2 linked regions of the Homo sapiens genome follow. The main gene of each other region encodes a partner of the protein of the gene in region 2 in a complex. Each region holds a gene or a part of one and is shown on either strand. Other genes may lie near its edges.

The links.
Region 1: the proteins of DERL1 (region 2) and VCP are in contact, whole or in part, in a cryo-EM structure (PDB 7Y59), measured with the Homo sapiens proteins. Residues at the interface, in NP_077271.1 of Homo sapiens: His240, Trp242, Gly243, Gln244, Gly245, Phe246, Arg247, Leu248, Gly249, Asp250; in NP_009057.1 of Homo sapiens: Arg113, Ile114, His115, Phe131, Leu135, Lys136, Phe139, Leu140, Val166, Glu167, Thr168, Asp169, Val176, Ala177, Pro178, Asp179, Thr180, Val181, Ile182, His183, Cys184, Glu185.

Annotation. Positions count from the first base shown.
Region 1 is NC_000009.12:35,069,608-35,077,142, reverse strand, and holds the start of VCP (transitional endoplasmic reticulum ATPase), read left to right. Parts: upstream 1-4,517; 5' UTR 4,518-4,789; coding exon 4,790-4,806; exon of another isoform or gene 4,807-5,386; intron 5,387-7,535. Other genes in the region: FANCG (Fanconi anemia group G protein), read left to right, coding at 42-172, 273-419, 560-711, 1,115-1,181, 1,389-1,678, 1,818-1,864, 2,061-2,216, 2,649-2,772 and 1 more. UniProt on the Homo sapiens protein: Necessary for the fragmentation of Golgi stacks during mitosis and for their reassembly after mitosis. Involved in the formation of the transitional endoplasmic reticulum (tER).
Region 2 is NC_000008.11:123,032,302-123,039,319, reverse strand, and holds part of DERL1 (derlin-1), read left to right. Parts: intron 1-7,018. UniProt on the Homo sapiens protein: Functional component of endoplasmic reticulum-associated degradation (ERAD) for misfolded lumenal proteins. Forms homotetramers which encircle a large channel traversing the endoplasmic reticulum (ER) membrane.

The DNA of each region.
Region 1 (7,535 bases), on a different chromosome or scaffold from region 2:
CTCTATAGCCCTCTCCAAGCTCACACCCTGACTGTCCTCAGGTCTCCAGGAGCTGATCACAGGGAACCCAGACAAGGCACTAAGCAGCCTTCATGAAGCGGCCTCAGGCCTGTGTCCACGGCCTGTGTTGGTCCAGGTGTACACAGCACTGGGGTCCTGTCACCGTAAGATGGTAAAGACAGTCCTAGGGTGGATTGGGGAAACCACAAGCATTATGTATAGCTTTTTGCTTTGTAAGGGTAGCTGAGGCCCGTGTCCTCCTATCCCTTTAGGGAAATCCACAGAGAGCACTGTTGTACTTGGTTGCAGCCCTGAAAGAGGGATCAGCCTGGGGTCCTCCACTTCTGGAGGCCTCTAGGCTCTATCAGCAACTGGGGGACACAACAGCAGAGCTGGAGAGTCTGGAGCTGCTAGTTGAGGTAGGGAACTGCCAGGTGAAGATGTGGGGTGGAGGATTCCTGAGGTGCTTGTGATGGGGTGACTTGACTAGTCAAGATCCAAGTATAAGGAAGTATGGCTCCCAAAGATTATAGATACAATTTTTTTCTTTCTCTTTTAGGCCTTGAATGTCCCATGCAGTTCCAAAGCCCCGCAGTTTCTCATTGAGGTAGAATTACTACTGCCACCACCTGACCTAGCCTCACCCCTTCATTGTGGCACTCAGAGCCAGACCAAGCACATACTAGCAAGCAGGTGCCTACAGACGGGGAGGTGAGGTTCCCCTTGCTCACCTGAGCTTCTCTTCCCACTTCTGATGCCTCCCCTGGGGTGTGACTCTGCTTTTGTTCTTGTGACTTGGGGGATGAATGAGGCAGTGGCAGGACATAGGTCGCCACTCCTCAGCCTCTTACCTTGCTTCTAGACCTGAACTGAGGACTCTTCTCTAAGACATTAACCTTCTCTATCTTTGACACTCTGAAGTCTCTTCCCCAGTCCATTCTGTAACTGGGGTAGATCCATACTGAGCCAAAATTGGAGCCCTAAGACCTTCCCTCCCTTTCTCCTCCTCAGGGCCCATGAACATCCATCTGTTAGCTAAGAGAGAACATTCTCAGGACCCTTGCAGGTTCCCTGCTAGGGCCTAGGGTGAGGCTTATGGGCTTTTACTCCTCAGGGCAGGAGACGCTGCAGAGCATTACTTGGACCTGCTGGCCCTGTTGCTGGATAGCTCGGAGCCAAGGGTGGGTGTGTCTTCAAGCTTCTCTGCAATGGGGTAGACGGGTTGGTGTCCCCTTTGAAATACAGCAAGACTGCAATTTTTTGTTTTTTCCTCTATTCTGTCTGTCCAGTCTGGGGGCCCAGGACTCTGCATGGTACCAGAGCCTGGTGAAGAGGTTGGGGATGGTGGCTCATGCCTTTCAAGACACTGCTTCTTCTTCCCACTCCAGTTCTCCCCACCCCCCTCCCCTCCAGGGCCCTGTATGCCTGAGGTGTTTTTGGAGGCAGCGGTAGCACTGATCCAGGCAGGCAGAGCCCAAGATGCCTTGACTCTATGTGAGGAGTTGCTCAGCCGCACATCATCTCTGCTACCCAAGATGTCCCGGCTGTGGGAAGATGCCAGAAAAGGAACCAAGGAACTGCCATACTGCCCACTCTGGGTCTCTGCCACCCACCTGCTTCAGGGCCAGGCCTGGGTTCAACTGGGTGCCCAAAAAGTGGCAATTAGTGAATTTAGCAGGTGAGCCCGGGGTCCTAGAGGGGGTGTGGAGGGATGATTTTCTGATTGGGACCTGAGTTGGTGAGCTCCATGTTCACCTACTTACCCTAGAGTTTCTGAAATTGATTCCTCTTCACCCCTGTTCTGTGTCCTACTTCAGGTGCCTCGAGCTGCTCTTCCGGGCCACACCTGAGGAAAAAGAACAAGGTGATCTAAACTTTCAGTTTTCCTCTTACCTCCTGGAAGTGGTAGTGGTGGAAGTGGGTTCCCTTTAATGTGTCCCAGCCCACCAGGAGACTTAAGAGAAAGGGACTGTGGACACAAGAAGAAATAGAGGAGGATTTGGGGTTTTGGTGACTGTGAGGCTGGGAAGACACTTCTTGACTTTGGGAGTGGTCCCCAGGGGCAGCTTTCAACTGTGAGCAGGGATGTAAGTCAGATGCGGCACTGCAGCAGCTTCGGGCAGCCGCCCTAATTAGTCGTGGACTGGAATGGGTAGCCAGCGGCCAGGATACCAAAGCCTTACAGGACTTCCTCCTCAGTGTGCAGATGTGCCCAGGTATGTATACTTGCATGACGTCGGCTATGCATAGATGTGCAAGGACAGAGAGGCCCATGGGAAATACTTGGGCGTAAGTGTAAGAGTGGTGTTCTCAGACAGGAGGGGTGATTGGGGTTGTGCTATATATACCTAGGGATATATCCAGGTGTTCAAATATACACAGTGTGTATGCAGGGCTCCCAAGAGTTCCCTGGTTTCCCCGATATCCTCAGACACAAAGACCATGACTCTGCTGTTGTGGGTTGCACAGGAGTAGGGGGCAGATGATGGACACTGGGATGGGAATGGTTGTGAATGATCTGCCCCCGCTTCCATATGTGAGTGTAGGCAAGATACTTCCTCTCTCTAGGCCTCAGTTTCCCTTTTTATAAAACAATGCCTAAGACTATGTCAAGTTCTAAGACTCTGTACTCTGGGCTGGGGCTACAGGTAATCGAGACACTTACTTTCACCTGCTTCAGACTCTGAAGAGGCTAGATCGGAGGGATGAGGCCACTGCACTCTGGTGGAGGCTGGAGGCCCAAACTAAGGGGTCACATGAAGATGCTCTGTGGTGAGGCTCAGGCCTGCTGGCTTGGGGCTGAGGGGCAGTTGGTGTCCTAGAGTCCTTGGACCTATTGTGGGTGGTGAACACTGAAAGCGGGGGTATGGCTGCCCAGCTTTCTGCCAATCTTTCACCCTTAGGCATCATCCTTCTTTCTCTCCAGGTCTCTCCCCCTGTACCTAGAAAGCTATTTGAGCTGGATCCGTCCCTCTGATCGTGACGCCTTCCTTGAAGAATTTCGGACATCTCTGCCAAAGTCTTGTGACCTGTAGCTGCCACGTTTTGAAGAGCTTGAGCTGGGTCCCCAGTGGGCTGTCTCTCTGTGGGGAGGGCTTTCTGCTTCACCATCATTAGGAATGTGACCATTCCTATATAATTCCTGGACTGGTGAGATTGGTGGTAGGCCTGTGAAATTTGCCCTAGTTACTACCATTCTCGTTTTGGAGGAAACAATCTCTGCCACCACCAAGTCATTGACTTTGCTCGAGGCACCTTTTTTCCTGTTTCTCCTTTTCTGTTGTCGAGTAAAATTTCATATTTATCTCGTCTGCCTACTACATATACTTGCGTGGGAAGGCTTGTGACCGTCTAGTTGAGTGCTAGTTGTCTATGATGCCCTTTCCTGACATCGTCTACCTTATGAACTTGAAGTCTGGGTATGAGGAAAGGGCTACAGGAATCCTCACTTTGGAGGCAGTGGCTTTAGTCCTTCACATTGCCTGAATGCAGAGCCCCAAAGCCCAGGACAGTGACAATGAGTGGAGTTGGGTCTGAAGGGTGGTCTAGATAGGCCTCTCAGGACAAGGGCAGGTACCTGTTACTTAGAGACAGGCAGGTTTCTCTCAGAGTAACTCTTCACTCCCTTCCTAATTCCAAATTCTAGAAATTCGACTCGTCTTAGTCAAATGTGTCTGTGTGGGTACAGGGTGAAAGGTGAATTGAGTCAGCATATCACCAACAGCTGCCTGTTGACTACTAACAGGGACCCCTGTTATTTGGGGCCCAAGGATTTTCAAGTCCCAGCATATGCAGTTTTCTTGCTAATTTGGGTTCTACTGAATTGGCTGTGTGTTCTGTGGTTGCCCTTTGACTTCTCTGGATTTGAGTGCCTTATTATAAGGTATTAATATTAATGACGGGAGGAAGAAAGGCACAAGCGCTGAGAAACTGCAAAGGCTGTGGGATTGGGGTTACCAGAGGGTGCAGTGACAATGGGGTAGGAGTGGGGTGCTAGTCAGAAAGTTCAGAGTAGGGGTGGTTGGAGGCAGCGTTGAGAAGGAGCAAGAAGTGTCAGGGTGGTGATGGCGTCTTAGAAGATCTCCAGGTTTTGGGAGAAGATGGGTGTATGGGTTACCACAATAGGACTAGACTAATACAAGGGTTCAGTCTATTGTGCCACGTTCTTCCAGGAGGATAAACTCCGGAGCCAATGAACTGGAGCCAAGTGGGAGAGTCCGCCTCTAAGGGATTAAAGGGTCTCCTTTCACTAATCGATCTCGCCCTATTCCTTTCGTTGATTGGCTGAGAATTCCAATCCGTCGAGGAAGCGTAGCGTTGCGGCCAATTGACGTGGCGTTACTAGGCGTGTCGCATCACTGAGGCGGGAGCCAGGCCGCAAGCGAATTTCCTGATTGGCTGTGATCTGCGGGTTGCTGGGGAGAGGCGCGGAGAGGCGGGCGAGAGTCCGCAGGGCAGGCGCTGATTGGCTGAGGTGGGAGCAGCTTCCCTTCCGATGATTCGGCTCTTCTCGGCTCAGTCTCAGCGAAGCGTCTGCGACCGTCGTTTGAGTCGTCGCTGCCGCTGCCGCTGCCACTGCCACTGCCACCTCGCGGATCAGGAGCCAGCGTTGTTCGCCCGACGCCTCGCTGCCGGTGGGAGGAAGCGAGAGGGAAGCCGCTTGCGGGTTTGTCGCCGCTGCTCGCCCACCGCCTGGAAGAGCCGAGCCCCGGCCCAGTCGGTCGCTTGCCACCGCTCGTAGCCGTTACCCGCGGGCCGCCACAGCCGCCGGCCGGGAGAGGCGCGCGCCATGGCTTCTGGAGCCGAGTGAGTGTGCGCGCGCCGTTCGCTTGCTGCGGCGGCGCGCACCGGGACCAGCCGCGCAGGGTAGGCCCGGCGGGGCCTGGCCGTGGGCGCGTCAGAGAGGTGGAGACCAGGAAAGAGGGAAGGGAAGCTAGGGGGCGAGTGAGGGGCCGTGGACCCGGCAGGCCCGGCTGGGGCCAGCTGCGCACCCGCGCGCCCCCTAGGCGGGGCTTGCGTTGGGTCCGGGTCGGAGCCTGGGCCGGATCGTGCTGTGTCATGCAGGCCCCGGCCCGCCCGATTGGCTCCCTTAGAACGGACGTCTGGGCCTGGCCAGGTCTTCCGGCCCACTCCGCCGGCGCGGCGCCCCGGGGCTTTGGGGCGCCAGTCTGCCGTCCGGCCTACCACCCGCCGAAAGCCTTTGGTCCCCGGAGAGAGCAGGCCCCGCGAGCCCGAGGCCCCAGCCGGGCCCGGTGGGCGTGGACTTTGCGCCATGTGAAGGCCTCAGGAGCTCTGCCACCGAGGCGGAGCCCGGGGTCGGGGAAGGCCCGCCGAGCTCAGGGAAGCTCACAGCCGCCTTTTTGGAGCCGGGTCGGCGGGGCCGGAGGTGGGCATCCTCTGTGTGTGACCTGAGTCGTGAAGGACTGTTAGGGAGAGGGCGAGCCCTACCTTTCGCTTCTGGTCTTCTTACTTTAGGCCTGTTGTTCATACTAGAAAGTTTGAGCCAGTTTTCCTTAATGTTATGACTCGTGGGTGGGGAGAAAGGAATTTTTCTTTAACATTTTAGGTTCTTGCTAAAGTTGGAATCTCAGTTCGTGTTTTGTGCGCCTTTCCAGATTTCCAGGTTTCGTGGTGTGCAGTTTAGAGTTGCACTAACTCTTCAAAAACACAAACGTGCGCGCACTCCTTTCCCCAACCAGCTATATTGAGAAATTACCCGGGCTCTGGGGCTTTCTGACCCCACCTCCATCCTTAGGAAAGCGTTAGATAAAACTTGGCTACCTCAGCCCATTCAATTTAGAATAGAGAGCTTTTAGAGGCAAAAAAAAAAAAAAAAAAAAAAAAAAAAACACAGCCAGCCCAAGGAAACTCTATGCAAATTACCTTCCTTCCTTGAAGAGATTAGTTTTTTGAGGTGTGTTCCTTTTTCTCAAGTTTCTGAATTCGGATAAAGTATTACTCAGTTGCTTATTTAAAAGAGTCACTTATTCTGAAAGTATTCTTTTGGTTTATATGCAGTCAGCCTCTTATTTTCAAAAGTAAAAATCTAAAATTCTTGGAACCTGGCATCATCAGCTGTTTCTAACCTCTTGGTCACCTTGATGACTCTTAGCTGAAACCCTTCCAAGTCCCGTGGAGTCCCCTGTGCAGTTCTGGAAAGGGATTGACTTATACAGAAGACAATGGAGGATTGCCCCAAAGAGTGTCCAGAACTGCTGTTGGCCCATGGTCAGGCCAAATTCAGTCTTTTAGAGATTACCACATCTGATCTCAGTAGGTAGATGGGGAATTAGAGGCTTTACCTTAAGAAAAGGGCATACCACTCATCTCCAGAGCCAGAGTCCGGGATGGTAGGCAGAATGGAGGTTTTCCTAGGATACAGCTTTGAGATTAAAATACAAACTATTGACCGGGCACAGTGGCTCAGGCCTGTAATCCCAGCATTTTGGGAGGCCGAGGCAGGCAGATCACTTGAGGTCAGGAGTTTGAGACCAGCCCGGGCAACATGGAGAAACCCCATCTCTATTAAAATGCAAAAAGTAGCCAGGCATGGTGATGGTGCACACCTGTAGTCCCAGCCACTCTGGAGGCTGAGACAGGAGAATCACTTGAACCCAGGGAGGCAGAGATTGCAGTGAGGGAGATCGCGCCACTGCACTCCAGCCTGGGCAACAGAGGGAGACTCCGTTTCAAAAAATAAAAAACTATGGTGACTAGAGGCATCTGGCGTTTTATTTTTCTCCAGTCCCAGTTCTATAAGTCAAGCAAGAAGATGGGCAGTCCCTGGAAGAGTATTTTGATGGGACAGGAGTGGGAGAGCTCGTGGGTTTACATTGCTCTCAACTGTCACATTGAGCATGCTTGGCCTCTAGTGTGTTGATAAGCATTGGAAGAGTCTGCCTACTCAGCAGCATTGTGCCTGGAGTGGCAGACTTTTGGAATGGGGGAAGCAAATTTGAGCAGAGGAAACTGTCGTTAGAAACTAGTTTAGAGGCAGTGGTTAAAAATGCAGCCTATGTGTGAGGGTTAGCAGAAGGCCTACCATTTTGTTAGATGAATGGGGTTTGTTTTTCTCTTGGGTGTATCAGGACCCAAAGATGTAAGAACCCCATGGCTTCCTAGCTGAGCACAGCATTTTTCTTTGTCTCTTGCAAATTGTGAGGATATTTCCAATGGGAATACTATTTTGTCTTGTTTTGTTGACTTCAGTATCCCCAGCCCTTAGAACAATGCCTGGTACATAATAGAGACTCATGAATTTGTTGAATGAAGAAATTCGTTTTAAAAATTTATTTTCTTTGCTTCCTTCATTGTCTGGCCTTCCTACTTTGGTTAATGCTTATGTTTTCCTGAGCCTTACTAACACGAGGCCGCTCTTAAAAAAGAGAGAGCGCTGGGTGCTGTGGCTCACGCCTGTAATCCCAGTACTTTGGGAGGCCGAGGTGGGCAGATCACCTGAGGTCAGGAGTTCGAGACCAGCCTGACCACCATGGTGAAACCCCATCTCTAGTAAAAATGCAAAATTAGCCAGGTGT
Region 2 (7,018 bases):
GTCTTTGGAGCCTTGTGAACAAAGGACTGACAGATTGCCCCGACTATTCTGTGGAGTGGACTTTGTGTGTGTATGGAGGGGGTTGAAGGAGGAAGGGCTAGGTGATGAGATCAGAGAGATGAATCCAGTTAGGAGGCCAGAGAGATGGTGGTTTGGATCAGTGTGGCTGTGAAGATAGAGAAAAGGGCATAGACTTGGCAGAGGGGACGAGATTACAGCCGAATGGATATAAAGAGTGAATGGGTGAAGCGAGCAGGACTGAAAGATACTACTGTTTTCACAGGAGCAGCTGAGTGGATGGCGGAGCCCTTGACTGAGATGGGGAATGGTCAGGGATACCTGGGTTGGGAGTGGGGGCTGGTATGGATGAAGAGTTAGGTTTTGGCTGTGCTAAGTCTTGAGATGCTTTTCAGGCATCCATGTGGCGAGGCCAAGGGAGCAGTTGGATATAAAAACATGACTCTGGAGTGCAGCTGGAATTGCATACTGTTCTGTGTTTATTACTTTACTAAATATTTGTTGGCTGAGAGAATGTTGTGTACTTTGTCCCTGGTGGCTTGTTGGGTAATGTGTGGTCATGGGGAGCAATGGTGGCATATTAATGTGTGAGAAGGACCTGGTCAAAACCGGCTTGTTGTCCCTGTTAGCAAAATCCTCACTTGTGTAGTGACACTAGTGACTACACGATGTAAATAAGCACATTGTAAAGAAGCAATGTAAATAAGCCTAACAGGCTGCGGGTGTATAAGGTTAAAAGTGGTGAACTGATTAAAAAGAGTAATCGTTCTTGTCACATCTTCCACAATTTTGTCATCTTCCCTGTATTATTTCTTCTCAGCTGCCAGCAGGAGGCAGGACAGTGTACTGCCCAGGTGTGAAAAGACCAACAGCTGTACCTTGTCTTTTCTTCCTGTTACTCTGATTCTTGCCTATTTTGGACACATGTAACTTTCAGACCCACCTGGAGGAACTCATTTGCAAATGAAGCAGTCAAGGAAAAACTGCATTTGAGAGGCTGCTGTGCACGGACAGTGTGCGGTGTGCTTTAGCAGAGTTCTGCTAGAAAGTTCCTTTTTTCCTTAGAAGCTGAATCTTTCACAACTTACAAAAATGGGGGAGTGATTGATTTAGAATTGTGTGCTCATGTTGGAAGTGACAAGTTATTTTTCCTCCTCAGCTCTAGATTCTTGTGTGTAGCTTGTTGGTTTAGAACGCTGAGGTTTATAATGTTATTTCTTTAGTTTGGATAGGTTGAAACAGGTGTGTGTTAAGACTCATTATACTGTTGTCTACGATTTCTCCCTATTCTGAGTCCCTCAGATTTATGTTCATCAATCAAATAGTTCACAATAATGAAATGTCTTCATATTAATCGTTGATTAACTACACAAGAGGTGGCAATTCCTGCTGCCTTTGTGTTTTCTAAGGTTATGTCTCCCAGGGCCGCCTGCATGGCTATATTTCTTCATTTCTTTGGACAAAATAACATCACCCTGTTACAACTTCCCTGAGGTCATGTCACTGAACTCTGACAGTCATCCTGAGATAAGTGTTACCCCCATTTTGTAGACAGCTTCAGTTTCAGTTTCTATTTCGTTGAGTCAAGGATAGTTCTAAGCTGTTTTGTTTAACTCCTTTGCATAATATCTACGAAAAAAATAAGTATGTAGCAAAACATTTTTGAAGGTGATTTCTTCCAAATCAATCATAGCAAATTGTTTTTCCTTTTCTATTCGAGTAGAAAGGCTGTTAGATTTCAAGTAGTTGAATCATGGTCTCAAGGCCTGGCTCAGTCCCCTGCTAGTTGTGTACCCTTAGGCAAGTTATTTATCCTGTCTGAGCCTCAATTTCTTTAGGATCTGAGGATAATATCATAGCATATTAACTTTGTTCTAAGACTCCATTGATTATACGATGCACCATCAATTTAATGCAACTTTTTTGGGGGACAGGGGAGTAGAAATTACATTCAACGAGTGTATTGATTGTAAGACACTCTAATTTCAGAAACACAGGAACGAGTACCTTCAAATTGAGGAAATATGTTATCTACTTCTTGCCTCTAGTATGTAGAACACATAGAAAAATGTTTGTAATACCCAATAAGTAGCCTGATAAATAAGCTATTCAAAAATAGTTGCCTCCTACGTGGTTGGTATGGGAAAAAAAATAGTTGCCAATTTTTATTTATCAGCCAATACTTTATGCCTTATTTCCTTCTCTCCTGGACAGTAAGATTCTAATTTTAATTAGTAATTGCAATTGAAATGTAACTGCTGGATGATTATTCTGCTTTGTCTTCTTAAAAGCATCCTGACTTGAAATGGGAAGATGTGAACTCTTGATTTCTCTAATTTATTTCCAGGAATAAGAAATGGTACCAACCAATTCTGTGACTCAGCCTTGTGCTTATATTTGCCAAGCTTTTGCTTATATATCACATTTAACCTGATGACAGCAACCTTAGGAGACTGATTTAAGGGTGTATTGGGGAAGAGAGACGTTTCAACATAGCAGGGAGGAGAATGAACTTGGACTATAGGCTGAGCATAGAAGTTCTATATCCATCAAGGTTTGGCTATAGAACTCTAGTGGCAAGTGTTCTGGTACGTAATTTAAGATCTTTCCTTAGTAGTCCTGTCCATGTTGAACAGTTCTGCTGTGTTCTGTAATAATGTTGCCCATTAGATTGTGGCTTTTTAAAAAACTTTTTATTGAGTTACAATATACAAGCAGGAAAGTGTATGTATAATAAGTTTATAGCTTGAGTTTTTAAAAATTCAAAACATGTATACAGCCAGCATTCAGATCAAGAAACAGAATCTCTAAAAGCTTTCTCCTGCTTCCTTCTGGTCACTGTCCTCTCTAAGGGTGACTATGCTCTTGATTTTTAATACCATGTATTGTTGTTGCCAGTTTTTATGCTTTTTATAGGTGGAATTATGAAGTATGTTCTCTTTTGTGTCTACCTGCTTTTATCAACATTATGAGAGTCACCCATATTGTTGCATGTGGTTATAGGTTGCTCATTATGGGACCATACCACAATTTATTTACTCATTCAGCTATTAATGGACCTTTTGGGCAGTTTCCAGTTTGGCTATTATGAATGGTGCTGCTATGAACATTCTAATACATGTCTTGGTGAACATATGTACTTCTTGGTGAGGAGAAATAGTAATTTCTGTTGCCTATATATCTAGGAGTAGATTTGATGGCTTCTAATTGCTCTTTTTAAAGATTAAGTGCCTTTCATTTGTTTAAATGAATGGAAGGGGCCTTTTCTTGCCTACCCGTTGTGTCTCCCCACCCAGCAAAAAAGGCCACAGTTTACTAAACTAGCATTTGTCACACAGGTGCTCATCATCTTTCTTGCTTGGTGACTGATATATACTTAAGTCCGAATCAAGTGATCCTTATTATTTCAGACAAATCCTCACTTTTCATACTTTAAAAAAAAAAACACTAGATTCTGGATGGCAAATTATTTCAGTAGCAGATTGTTTAGAAGATTTTAGCTAAAGGATGGCTGCAACCTACACTCTGAAGTTGTTGGACTAATAACTGAGGAACAATGTCTTATGTCTTCTTTAAGGGTGTATATAGCAGTGAGCACATGGGCTACATGTCCTTGTTAAGTGAGGAACTCTAATTAGGGCCCAGCTTTCCTCCTGAAAAAACTGGGATCATTATGGGCCTGGCCTTGAGGTTGCTGTGGACTTAAAATGAGATACTCCCCCACGAGTCCTCTCAGTAAGTGTGAGGCAGGCAGTCCTCTGTCTGCAAGTCGTGGCTCTTTGTGCTGCAGTTGGCTGCCTCTTAGGCTTTCCAGGGTTGAAAATGGGCCTCTTCACTCCTGGCACTGAACGTAAAGCCAGTTCCTTCTCCTTACTGTTTACATATCAGGTCGAGGAAAAAATGGGATTTAGTTGGATACTTACAATGGGGATTTCCGAAATATGTTACACTGTGTCCTTCTAAAGAGATAAGCTGTCTTCTGGTGTTTTCAGATTATAATTTTAAAGTAACACAAAAATAATATTAAGTCTTTTAGATCAATGAAAGCAAGTATAACTCAAGGGTAGGCTTAATGAACAGGGAAAAGAAGTGAGATATTTTGACAGACACTGATTTCCAAAGAACAGGTGCAAACAGTGACTAAAAATAGTCTTATGTCATCAGCATTAGAGAAAATGTAGTCAGACAAAAACAAGGTTTCTTTTCCAAAACCAGGCCTTGAGTAACTTATAGGAATATGGGGGTAGTTGAAATATGAATTTATAAAAACTGGTTAGCGGGTGTTTCCGAAAAGATTGTGATAATACAATTAACACACCCACACATATTAATTCTTTTTGCATAGTATCTTTTTAATTCACTTTCTTAATTCCAACCTTTTACAAATCCTGTAAGATAAGGAAGGCAGAAGTCATAGGATAATGTCATTGGGTAGATGATGAAGCCAATTTGACGTCCATACTTTTCCAAGGGTCCAGGGCTACCTAGAGGGTTTGCTTCTGGTCTTTACTCCCAGTCCTTTTCTTAAGCACAGAGAATTAATTAGTAGGTTTACTCTGAGTCTATTTCAGGATTACACAAGTGTCTGTAGTAGTGAACACTTACACTAATTGTAATTGTACCTCATAATACTGACGCCATTTGTGAGAGGGATTGTAAAAATAGGGGCTTAGTATCACAAACTCTGGAGTCAGACTGTCTGGGATAAAATTCTAGCTTCACCACTTACTGGCTGATACTTAACCTTTTCTCATCCTGTTTCCTCATCTATGAAATCCGTCTCCTGAATCAGTGCGTGTAAATAAGCTGAGTAGCACATTAATTTATTGATTTCTTTAAAAAAATTAACTATGGAAATTGAGGCTCGGAAGTGGTGACTTATAAGCAAAAACTTAAACCCAGGTCTTCTCAAGTCATCTCCAGTTCCCTTTCCACTAAACTATCCTGTTTCTGTGATAAAGTTGTGAATGAATCAAACCAAATGTTAAACTATTTTATTTTTCTGGTTTAATACACGTTTCTTGGAAAGTCACTTTTTTGGTATGCACATTGCATTTCCCTCTACAAGGAATTAAGCTCTGAGGGTTACATTCCTGTACTTGGAGAATGGAACTGGCCAGTCTGTATGTGGCCAGTCCCCGTGACTGACGTCCTCCATTCCAGCCACACTTGAATTGTTAGCAGTACCCATTCAGTTATTGTGCTCTTGCAATTCTTGGGGCCTTTGTAACAAGTCCACATGTCCCCTCCCTTGTGCCAACCCTTTCTTCCTTTGACAGCCTTCCCCACTACTCTGAGGAATTCAGGGGCCATGTCTTTTGTGCTTGGTACATGCTAGTGTGCAATGAGATAGACACATATCTCTCACACCAAAAGCCAGCATTTTGCTGCCATTTCCAAAAGTTTAGGAAGGCCATCTGCTTCAATCACTATTTAGCATTGTTCTGGTGGGGGTGCCAGCCAGTGAATTAGACAAGAATGAAATAAGATACAAAAGTTTATTTACAGCTAGGGTTGTATGCTTGGAAAGCCCAAGAAGCTCAATTTTCTTTTTTGTTAAGACATAGTTTCGCTCTTGTTGCCCAGGCTGGAGTGCAGTGTTGTGATCTCGGCTCACTGCAACCTCTGCCTCCTGGATTCAAGCGATTCTCCTGCCTCAGCCTCCCGAGTAGCTGGGATTACAGGCATGTGCCACCACGCCCGGCTAATTTTGTGTTTTTAGTAGAGACAAGGTTTCTCCACCTTGGTCAGCCTGGTCTCGAACTCCCGACCTCAGGTGATCTGCCCACCTCGGCCTCCCAAAGTGCTGGGATTACAGGCATGAGCCACTACTCCCGGCCGAAGCTCAATTTTCAATATTGTAGGCAGTAAGATACTCAGCTTTTGTGGTTAAGTATAAAAAGGTAGAAAGAGATAGCTCTATAGACAACTCTAAAAGCTATGAAAAACTTCTTGGCTGGGAATTATATCAATATCACATGGATATAATAAAAGAATGGTTCTAATTCATTTAGAAAAATAAAATATTGAGACTAACCAAGAAAATTGTGACAATTGTTGAAGAAAAAAAGGGGGAGATATTATTTAGCTGTTTAACTTTACCAGCTATTAAAATATGTTATAAAAGGAATAGAAACTAGGCTAGGCCCAGTGGCTCATGCCTATAATTTCAGCACTTTGGGAGGCTGAGGTGGGAGCATCATTTGAGGCTGGTAGTTTGAGAGCAGTCTGGACAACATAGGAAGAGCCCGTCTCAAAAAACAAACAAACAAAATTACCAGGTGTGATGGTACATGCCTGTAGTCCTAGCCACTTGGGAGGCTGAGTGGAGAATTGCTTGAACCCAGAAATTTGAGGTTACAGTGAGCTGTGGTCAAAACACTGCGCTCCAGCCTGAGCAACAGACTGAGACCTTGTCTCAAAAAAAAAAAAAAAAAAGAAAATAGAAATTAAAATAACTTGATATTGGCATAGGAACCAATTCCAAACAGAATGGTGTTAAAATAGACCTACATGTAAAAGAGACTAGAGTATAAACGTTCAATGAAAGTAGTTTTTCAAATAATTGGAAAAAATGTGGGTTACTCTGTAAATGGGGTTGGGAAAACTGGGTGACTATTTAGAAAAACAGTTGGATCTCTTCCTCATTCCTTGGATGCACCTTGAAAGTGCTAAAATAAAACCATGAACACTTACATTCTTGGAGCGAAAAGACTTTCTAAACATGACACATCATGGATACATATGCCTACATTTAATTAAACTTTTGTATGTCAAAATATGGCAAAAACACCATGAAAGTCTAATGACATCAGAAAATGCTTGCAATGATGAGAAAGAGAAATTTCATAATGTATGAGGAAATGCAGCCAGGTGCGATGGCTCATGCCTGTAATCCCAGCACTTTGGGAGGCCAGGACAGGTGGATTGCTTGAGCTCAGGAATTTGAGACCAGCCTGGGCAACATCAGGAGACCCTGTATCTACAAAAAATATAAAAA